Linked DNA regions of Homo sapiens: region 1 is linked to region 2. The links come from fine-mapping of genetic effects on gene expression. A gene starts in region 2. The other region holds a variant in brackets. All regions are shown on one strand. Distances are between the middles of the regions.

The links. PIP is the estimated chance that this variant, and not a neighbour inherited with it, causes the effect.
Region 1: its variant is the best candidate, but not a certain one, in a credible set for the expression of PLXNA3 in esophagus mucosa (GTEx, PIP 0.51).

The regions. Positions count from the first base shown.
Region 1 is chrX:154,500,133-154,504,510 of GRCh38, reverse strand. No RefSeq gene overlaps it. Among named protein-coding and RNA genes, the nearest start is that of SLC10A3, 12 kb to the right of the region's middle. The variant G/T (reference allele first, on the strand shown) is at 1,673.
Region 2 is chrX:154,455,751-154,460,128 of GRCh38, reverse strand. PLXNA3 (plexin A3) reads right to left here and starts at 1,848. Exons shown (of 33, transcript NM_017514.5): 1 at 1,701-1,848. RefSeq lists enhancers at 393-945, 2,371-2,440 and silencers at 1,431-1,500, 1,741-1,980, 2,111-2,280.

The DNA of each region.
Region 1 (4,378 bases), 44 kb before region 2:
AAAAAAAATACAGTGTAGGCTGGCACGGTGGCTCATGCCCTATAACCCAGCCTTCGGGAGGCCAAAGTGGGCAGATCACTTGAGCCCAAGCATTCAAGACCAGCCTAGGCAAAATAGCGAGACCCCATCTCTACAAAAAAATAAAATTAGCCAGTCGTGGTGACACACATCTGTAGTCCCAGCTACTTGAGAGACTGAGACAGGATTACTTGAGCCCAGGAGGTCAAGGATGCAGTGAGCCAAGATCACACCACTGCACTTCAGCCTGGGCAACAGAGTGAGATCCTATCAAAAAAAAAACACACACACACAATACAGTGTAATTGTTATTTGCAGAGCATTTACATTGTATTAAGCATGATAAATAATCTCAAGATGGTTTAGATTCTATGGGACCAGGCTTGGTGGCTCATGTCTGTAATCCCAGCACTTACGGAGGTTGAAGCAGGCAGATTGCTGCAGTCCAGGAGGTTGAGGCTGCAGTGAGCCGTGATTGTGCCACTGCACTCCAGCCAGGGTGACAGAGCGAGACTTTGTCTCAAAAAAAAAAAAAAAAAAAAATCAGGCCGCGCACGGTGGCTCACACCTGTAATCCCAGCACTTTGGGAGACCGAGGTGGGCAGATAATCTGAAGTCGGGAGTTTCAGACCAGCCTAGCCAACATGGTAAAACCCTGTCTCTACTAAAAACACAAAAATTAGCCAGGCGTGCTGGCGCATGCCTGTGATCCCAGCTACTCGGGAGGCTGAGGCAGAATCACTTGAACCTGGGAGGTGGAGGTTGCAGTGAGCCGAGATCACGCCACTGCACTCCAGCCTGGACGACAGAGTGACACACCGTCTCAAAAAAAAAGAAAAAAGGGCTGGGCGCACAGTGGCTCACGCCTGTAATCCCAGCACTTTGAGAGGCCGAGGTGGGCGGATCACAAGGTCAGGAGATCAAGAGGTCAGGAGATCAAGACCATCCTGGCTAACACGGTGAAACCCCGTCTCTACTAAAAATACGAAAAATTAGCTGAGCATGGTGGCGGGCGCCTGTAGTCCCAGTTACTCGGGAGGCTGAAGCAGGAGAATCGCTTGAACCCGGGAGGCGGAGCTTACAGTGAGCTGAGATTGCACCACTGCCCTCCAGCCTGGGTGACAGAGCGAGACTCCATCTCAAAAGAAAAAAAAATCTATGGGAATAAATATGTATAACTATAATGTATCCATTTTATATCAGGGACTTGAGCATCCCTGGACTTTGGCAGCTATAGGGTGCCCTGGAACAAATACCTATCGGATACCAACAGATGACTGTCATCAACTCTGATGTGCTCATCCCTCTAGTGATCGACATGTGACCAGTGCTGTCTCATCTGTACCCACATGGTCCCATATGTTGATACAAATCTCAACTTCCTTCTTGCATCAATACCTCAGTTATACCATAGGTAACACCTCACCACAACCCTAGCCAGTAAGTGTGGCCATTGTCCCCACTGTACAAAAAAGTAAAGGTCCCTAGTGGGGATAGGAGAGTTCCCGGTGTAGCAAGACTACAAGCCAGATAAGTACAATTCCACGAGGTTACTAGCTTGCCCCTAAATGAAACGGAAACTCACGGAGTGTCTATACTGCCAGGCTGGGAGGGGCTTGGGCTCCCCGACACTTCTCCAGCAACTGCTGTGATT[G/T]CCCAGCCTTCCTCCATTTGTTCCTTCAGCTCATTTGTTCACTAAACATTCACCAAGTGCCTGAACTGGTCCAGGAACACCGTAGTGAGCCACAGTGACAGCCTCTACCTCTTCATGGGGCTGCACCCTCACTGGGGTCACCAGTGTCACAGCCCAACACAGGCTAGGAAGCTGATGGCATGGAGCACAGCCTGCCTGACTTCCCAAAGAGGAGGTAAGCTTGACATATCCCACGGTCCTGTTTTGCCAGGGGTATCGCCCCCTGGGCCTGCCCTTTAGGAGTTAGGATGTCCTCACTTACAATGCCAGAATTCAAACTCAAACTGGCATAAGCAAAAAAAAAAAAAAAAAAAAAGGGAGGATGGCAGAATGCATTGTTCCTGTAATGGACCCCGAAGCCCAAGGGACTTGGGCTCTCTCCACCTCTTGGCTTTGTTTTTCTCTCTGTATTGGCTTCATTTTCCAACATGGCAGCCTTCCTTGCCATGACAGTTGTCAGAATCAAAATGGAGTCACTTGTGTTAAAAAACAAAAAACAGAGCTGGGGAAGGCTGCAAATGCAGAAACCACAGCTTTCCACAGAAAAAAAATACTGCAAGGACATCTGCCCAGCAACTTTTTGAGACGGAGTTTCGCTCTTGTTACCCAGGCTGAAGCGCAGTGGCGCAATCTCGGCTCACTGCAACCTCCGCCTCCTGGGTTCAAGCGATTCTGCCTCAGCCTCCCAAGTAGCTGGGATTGCAGGTGTGCACCACCACACCCAGCTAATTTTTGTATTTTTAGTAGAGACACGGTTTCACCATGTTGGCCAGGCTGGTCTTGAACTCCTGACTTCAAGTGATCCACCTGCCTCAGCCTCCCAAAGTGCTGGGATTAAAGGCGTGAGCTACCGTGCCCGGCTGACTTTTTTTTTTTTTTTTTTCTGAAACGGAGTCTGGATCAGTCACCCAGGCTGGAGTATAGTGGCACAATCTTGGCTCACCACAACCTCCGCCTCCTAGGTTCAAGCGATTCTCCTGCCTCAGCCTCCTGAGTAGCTGGGATCACAGGCATGCGCTACCACGCCTGGCTCATTTTTGTGTTTTTAGTAGAGACAGGGTTTTACCTTGTTGGCCAGGCTGCTCTTGAACTCCTGACCTCAGGTGATCCACCCGCCTCAGCCTCCCAAAGTGCTAGGATTATAGGCGTGAGTCACCGCACCCAGCTGAGCAACTTAACCCTAACCCTGTCCAACCTCATACTGAGGTCACCCTTGTTATCGATCCTTGTAGCCAAGGAGAATTCTCTCAAAACAATTAGGTGATCCTCTTCACTTTTCCTTGAAAAACCTTTGCCTTCTTTTGCCTCCCTGTATATGCACACAGTTTACCATACAGTTTACCATGGCACATGCATTCCCACTGCAACGCATTCCAGAATAAATATCATTTTCTCTCAGAGAGCCTGTTATTTAGGATGACATAACTAGAGTCAGAAGTGGGACCTACAGCTGGGCGTGGTGGCTCACACCTGTCATCCCAGCACTTGAGAGTCCAAGGCAGGAGGATCACTTGAGCCCAGGAATTTGACACCATCCTGGGCAACACAGCAAGACCCTGTCTCTAAAAAAAAAAAAAAAAATTAATTAGCCAGGTGTGGTGGTGCACACCTGTAGTCCCAGCTACTAGGGAGGCTGAGGTGGGAGGATGGCTTGAGCCCAGGGGTCAAGGCTGTCTCAGAAAAAAAAAAAAGAAAGAAAGAAAGAAAAAAGAAAAGAAAAGAAAAAAAAAATAAGTGAGACCCGAAACAAAATCACCTTTAAAAGGAATTGGGGCTGGGCACGGTGGCTCATGCCTGTTATCCCAGCACTTTTGGAGGCCAAGACAGGAGGATTATTTGAGCCCAGGAATTCAAGGCCAGCCTGGGAAACAGAGTGAGACCCTGTTTCAAAAAAATAAAATTAAAATAAAAAATAAAATTAAATAAATAAAACTAAAACACTGGTATGTAGAGGCGCCTAACTTCTCTATCTGCTTTTCTTTTCTTCCTCCTCTCTGCTGACTCTGTTGGCTTTTTCTTCTTCTTCTTCTTTTTTTTTTTTTTGAGGCGGAGTCTTGCTCTGTCACCAGGCTGGCACGATCTCGGCAACCTCTGCCTCCCGGGTTCAAGGAATTCCACTGCCTTAGCGTCCCGAGTAGCTGGGACTACAGGCATGCGCCACCATGCCTGGCTAATTTTTTGTATTTTATCATGTTGGCCAGGATGGTCTCGATCTCCTGACCTCATGATCTGCCTGCCTCGGCCTCCCAAAGTGCTGGGATTACAGGTGTGAACCACCGCACCTGGCCTTTTTCTTCTTTTTTTTTTTTTTTTTTTTTGAGACAGGGTCTCACTCTGCCACCCAGGCTGGAGTGCAGTGGTGCAGTCTCAGCTCACTGCAGCCTCAACCTCCTGGGCTCAAGCGATCCTCCCACCTCAGCCTCCCAAGGAGTTGGGAACACAGGCACCTGCCACCACGCCTGGCTAATTTTTGTAGAGATGGGGTTTCATCATGTTGTTCAGGCTGGTCTCTATCTCCTGAGCTCACATGATCCACTCATCTTGGCCTCTCAAAGTGCTAGAATTACAGGCGTGGCCACCGTGCCCAGCCAGCTTCTTCACTTGTATTAAGATAATTGTATTAAGATAATTTCACCCTGGGCAACCTGATCAGACCCCAACCCTACA
Region 2 (4,378 bases):
AGGCCTCGAGCCACAGAGGGCTGGGCCATTCACCCACCACCCCGCCAAAGCCCCAGATGGCCACCGTGACAGGGAGAGAGGAGGGGCCTCCGCCAGGGCGCATGAGTGAGCAGCCAGCGAGGGCAGGCTTGGGGGCCATCAATCGTCCCTCAGCCCCCATGCTGGAAAGGAGCCAGGAGGCCTCGCCTCAGCTGGGCCACACCCAAGGGGGTAGCAGAGCAGATGCTGGAACTGGGACCCCAGATGCCACATCTCAGAGCCCGGGGCAACCAACAGCAAAGAACAGCAAGCCCCAGGCCTCTGGGCTGCCCCCAACGCCTGAGCTGAGGGGAGAGGGAGGCAGGCACAGAATAATCGCAAGCTGGGGGAGAGGGGCAGGGCCAGGAACACCACCTGGAGTGGCACTGCCACCAGGAGCCCTGGGACAGAGGTCTGGGGAATGGAGGCCTGATGCAGGATCCAGCACCACCATGTCCCCTGCAGGGGCCCCAGCTGCCTCCCCGACAAGGGCCTCAGCTGGCCATCCAGGAGCCCGCTGTCTGGCCTCCCCGATGCAACACAAAGCCAAGTCGCGCCTGCCCCTCAGCCACGCACCCAGACACACATCAGTCAAGCTCTGCTCAGCCACAGCCTGCATGGCTCCCCCTCCAGACCCAGGGGTTCACTGGAGAAGGGAATGTACAGGGGGCCCTACCTGCCCTTTGGAGTCCCAGGAGCCTTACAAGAGGAGGAGCAATGTCCCCAAATACAGTCAAGGCCTTGGAGAGACAGGGCAGGAGCCACAGGGACAGTGCTGGGACTGGCACTTAGTCCCCAGGCCACACCCAGTCAGCCCCAGGCTGCTAAGACAGCAGAGCAGTGTCGTGGCAGCCAACAGGGCAGGGCTCAGCGCTACCCTCTCAGTGCCAGAGCTCCCGGGGGAGATAGGAGGTACCCAGCTTGAGGGCGGGAGGCGGGGGGGGAGCGGGGGGTGGTGCAGGGAACCAAACCAAGGAGGCACAGGAGAGAGAAAGGAAAAATAAGGCATTTGCCAGGAACAAGCAGCGGGCCCAGCTTGAAACTGCAAAGTTTCAGCTCAGATTGATCACCTCTCCAGGGCTCTTTTGTCAGCTGGACCCCTCATGCAACAGCCGGAGAAGAAAGGAAGGCCAAAGAAAAGAGAGGCCACATCCTGTCTTCACCTCCTCTACACCCCGGGAACACAAGCCTAGGAACAGGCTGGGGACAGGTCGGGAGGGAGACCTGGGGAGGCAGTTTCAGGCCCAGCCCCCACCTGTAAGTGGCAACCTCGGGCATCACAGGTACAGCTGGGCCAGCAGAGAGCCTGAGGAAGGGGCAGCCCCACGCAGAGACGGGGGTCCAGCGGCCGCCCCCCACACCCCCCACCGTGCTGCTGGTCCGGTTTGCCCGGGCCCCATCAGGGCACCCCTCGGCGGACTCGCGGAGCCCTTAGCGGGAGGGAAGTACAGCGTTGATCCTCCGAGGGGCCGCTCCCCTGCGACAAAGGGTCCTCTTTGGGCAGGGTGTTGGTCTTGGGTTGGCGTCCCCACCATGCGGGGCACAAGGAGTCGGGCAGGCCGGCGCCGACGGGCAGGGATAGGGCCTGACCCCCACAGGCCGAGCCGGACCCCCGGGCTGCCGGAGCCCCGGGCCCCGAGCTGTTTGGCCCCGCACGGACGGCGACGATGACGGCCACCTACCTGTCCCTCCGCTGGCTCCGGGTGGCCGCCCTCTGGCCACGTGGACGCGCCCCCGAGCCCCACCGCGGCCCCGCTCGCACGTCCCCACGGCCTCGCCCCGCGCCCCGGGCCCCAAGCGCGCAGCCGCCGCCGCCGCCGCCCACACACTGGGCTGGCCCGGGGGCCGCCGGAGCCTTTTAAACCCGGACCGTACCACCGCGCGGGGCGGGGGCGTCCGGGGACGCCCGGCCGAGGGGGACGCGGCGGCAGGGGACGCAGGCGGGGCCGCTGCTCCCCGGGGCCAGGGACCTCGCGCGCAGCCCTGACCCCCGCGACCTGAAGGGGGACCCGCCCGGCCAGCCGACCCCCTTCGCTCGATGGCCGCGTCCGCGGCGCGCGCCTCCCCCGCGCCCCGGCTCCCCGCCCGCCGCCTCGGGCGACCCCGGAACCCGCGCGCGCCCGCGCCACACCCCCTCGGGCCTGGGGCGCGCGTCCGCCTCGCCCCACCCTGGCGCTCGGAGACGCGCCCGGGGTCACCTGCCACCGGGGCGCGGCCTCGCTGGTCCCGGCCTCTCAGGTGCACCCCCGCCGAGGAGTCGCGTCCCCAGCTCAAGACACGCCCCCGACGGTCTCTAACCCGGAGGGCCTGCGGGACAGCCGTCCAAACCAGCCCCTTCCCCGGCGACCCTGAACCGAGGGCTTTCTTCCTTCCCTTGCTTTCTTTTTCCTTTTCTTTTTTTGTTTTCTTTTGACACAGGGTCTCGCTCTGTCACCCGGGCTGGAGTGCAGTGGTGAGATCATAGCTCACTGCAGCCTCGACCGCCCCAGGCTCAAACGATGCTCCCGCCTCAGCCTCCCAAAGTGCTGGGACTACAGGTGTGAGCCACCGCGCCCCGTTAAGGTTTTCTTTTTCATTTCCCTGATGACTAATGGTGTTCAGCATCTTTTCATGTGCTTGCTGGCCTTTTGTATATGATCTCTGAAGAAATGTCTATTCAAGTCATTTGCCCATTTTTATTAAACACATATATGGAGAGATAGATAGATAGACAGATTTTTCCCCCCAAGTTGAGGTCGCGCTCTATCACCCAGGCTGCAGTGTAGCGGCATTGGATCATGGCTCACTGCAGCCTCGACTTCCTGGGCTCAAGGGATCCTCCTGCCTCAGCCTCCCAGGTAGCTGGGACCACAGGCAAGTGCCACCACGCCTGGCTAACTTTTCCTATTCTTGTAGAGAGAGACAGGGTCTTGCTACACTGCCCAGGCTAGTCTTGAACTCCTGGGCTTAAGTAATCCTCCTGCCTCAGCCTTCCAAAGTACTGGCATATGCTGGGTGCAGTGACTCAAGCCTGTAATCCCAGCATTTTGGAAGGCTGAAGTGAGCGGATCACCTGAGGTCAGGAGTTCGAGACCAGCCTGGCCAACATGGCAAAACCCCATCTCTACAAAAAATACAAAAATTAGCCGGACATGGTGTCATATGCCTGTAGTCCCAGCTACTCAGGAGGCTGAAGCAGGAGAATTTTTTTTTTTTTTTTTTTTTTTTTTAGACAAAGTCTTGCTCTGTCGCCAAGGCTGGAGTGCAGTGGTGTGACCTCGGCTCACTGCAAGCTCCGCCTCCCGGGTTCACGCCATTCTCCTGTCTCAGCCTCCCAAGTAGCTGGGACTACAGGCACTCGCCACCACGCCCGGCTAATTTTTTTGTATTTTTGGTAGAGACGAGGTTTCACCGTGTTAGCCAGGATGGTCTCGATCTCCTGACCTTGTGATCCGCCCATCTCGGCCTCCCAAAGTGCTGGGATTACAGGCGTGAGCCACCGCGCCCGGCCGAGAATCTCTTGAACCTGGGAGGGGGAGGTTGCAGTGAGCCAAGATCGTGCCATTGCACTCCAGCCTGGGAGATAGAGCAAGACTCTGTCTAAAAAAAAAAAAGCACTGAGATTATAGGCATGAGCCACCATGCCTGGCCCTCAACTGACTTTAAGTAAAAGAGATCACCCTTGATAATGTGTGTGGGCCTCATCCATTTAGTTGGATGGCTTTAAGAGCAAAACCCGAGGTTTCCTGGAGAAGCAGAAATTCTGCCTCAAGACTGTAACACAGGCCAGGCGCGGTGGCTCATGTCTGTCATCCCAGCACTTTGGGAGGCCAAGGCAGGCGGATCGCCTGAGGTCAGGAGTTCGAGACCAGCCTGACCAACGTGATGAAACCCCGTCTCTACTAAAAATACAAAAATTAGTTGGGCATGGTGGCGGGCATCTGTAATCCCAGCTACTCGGGAAGCTGAGGCAGGAGAATCGCTTGAACCCAGGAGGCAGTGGTTGCAGTGAGCTGATATCATGCCACTGCACTCCAGCCTGGGCGACAAGAGTGAGACTCCATCTCAACAACAACAACAACAAGACTGTAACACAGAAATTCTCCGAGTTTCCAGCCCGTCAGTCTGTCCTACAAATTTCACACCAACTTGTCAGCCCCGACAATTGGGTGAACCAAATCCTTAAAATAAACTGTGTGTGTGTGTGTCCTGTTGGTTCTGTTTCTCTGGAGAACCATGACTAATACAGATGTCTTTCCATTTATTTAGGTCTTCTTGAATTTCTTTCAATGATGTTTTGTACTTTTCAGTGTACAAATCTCATGCTTCTTTTAAAAAAATCTATTAATAAGTATTTTATTCTTTTTTGACACTGTTATAA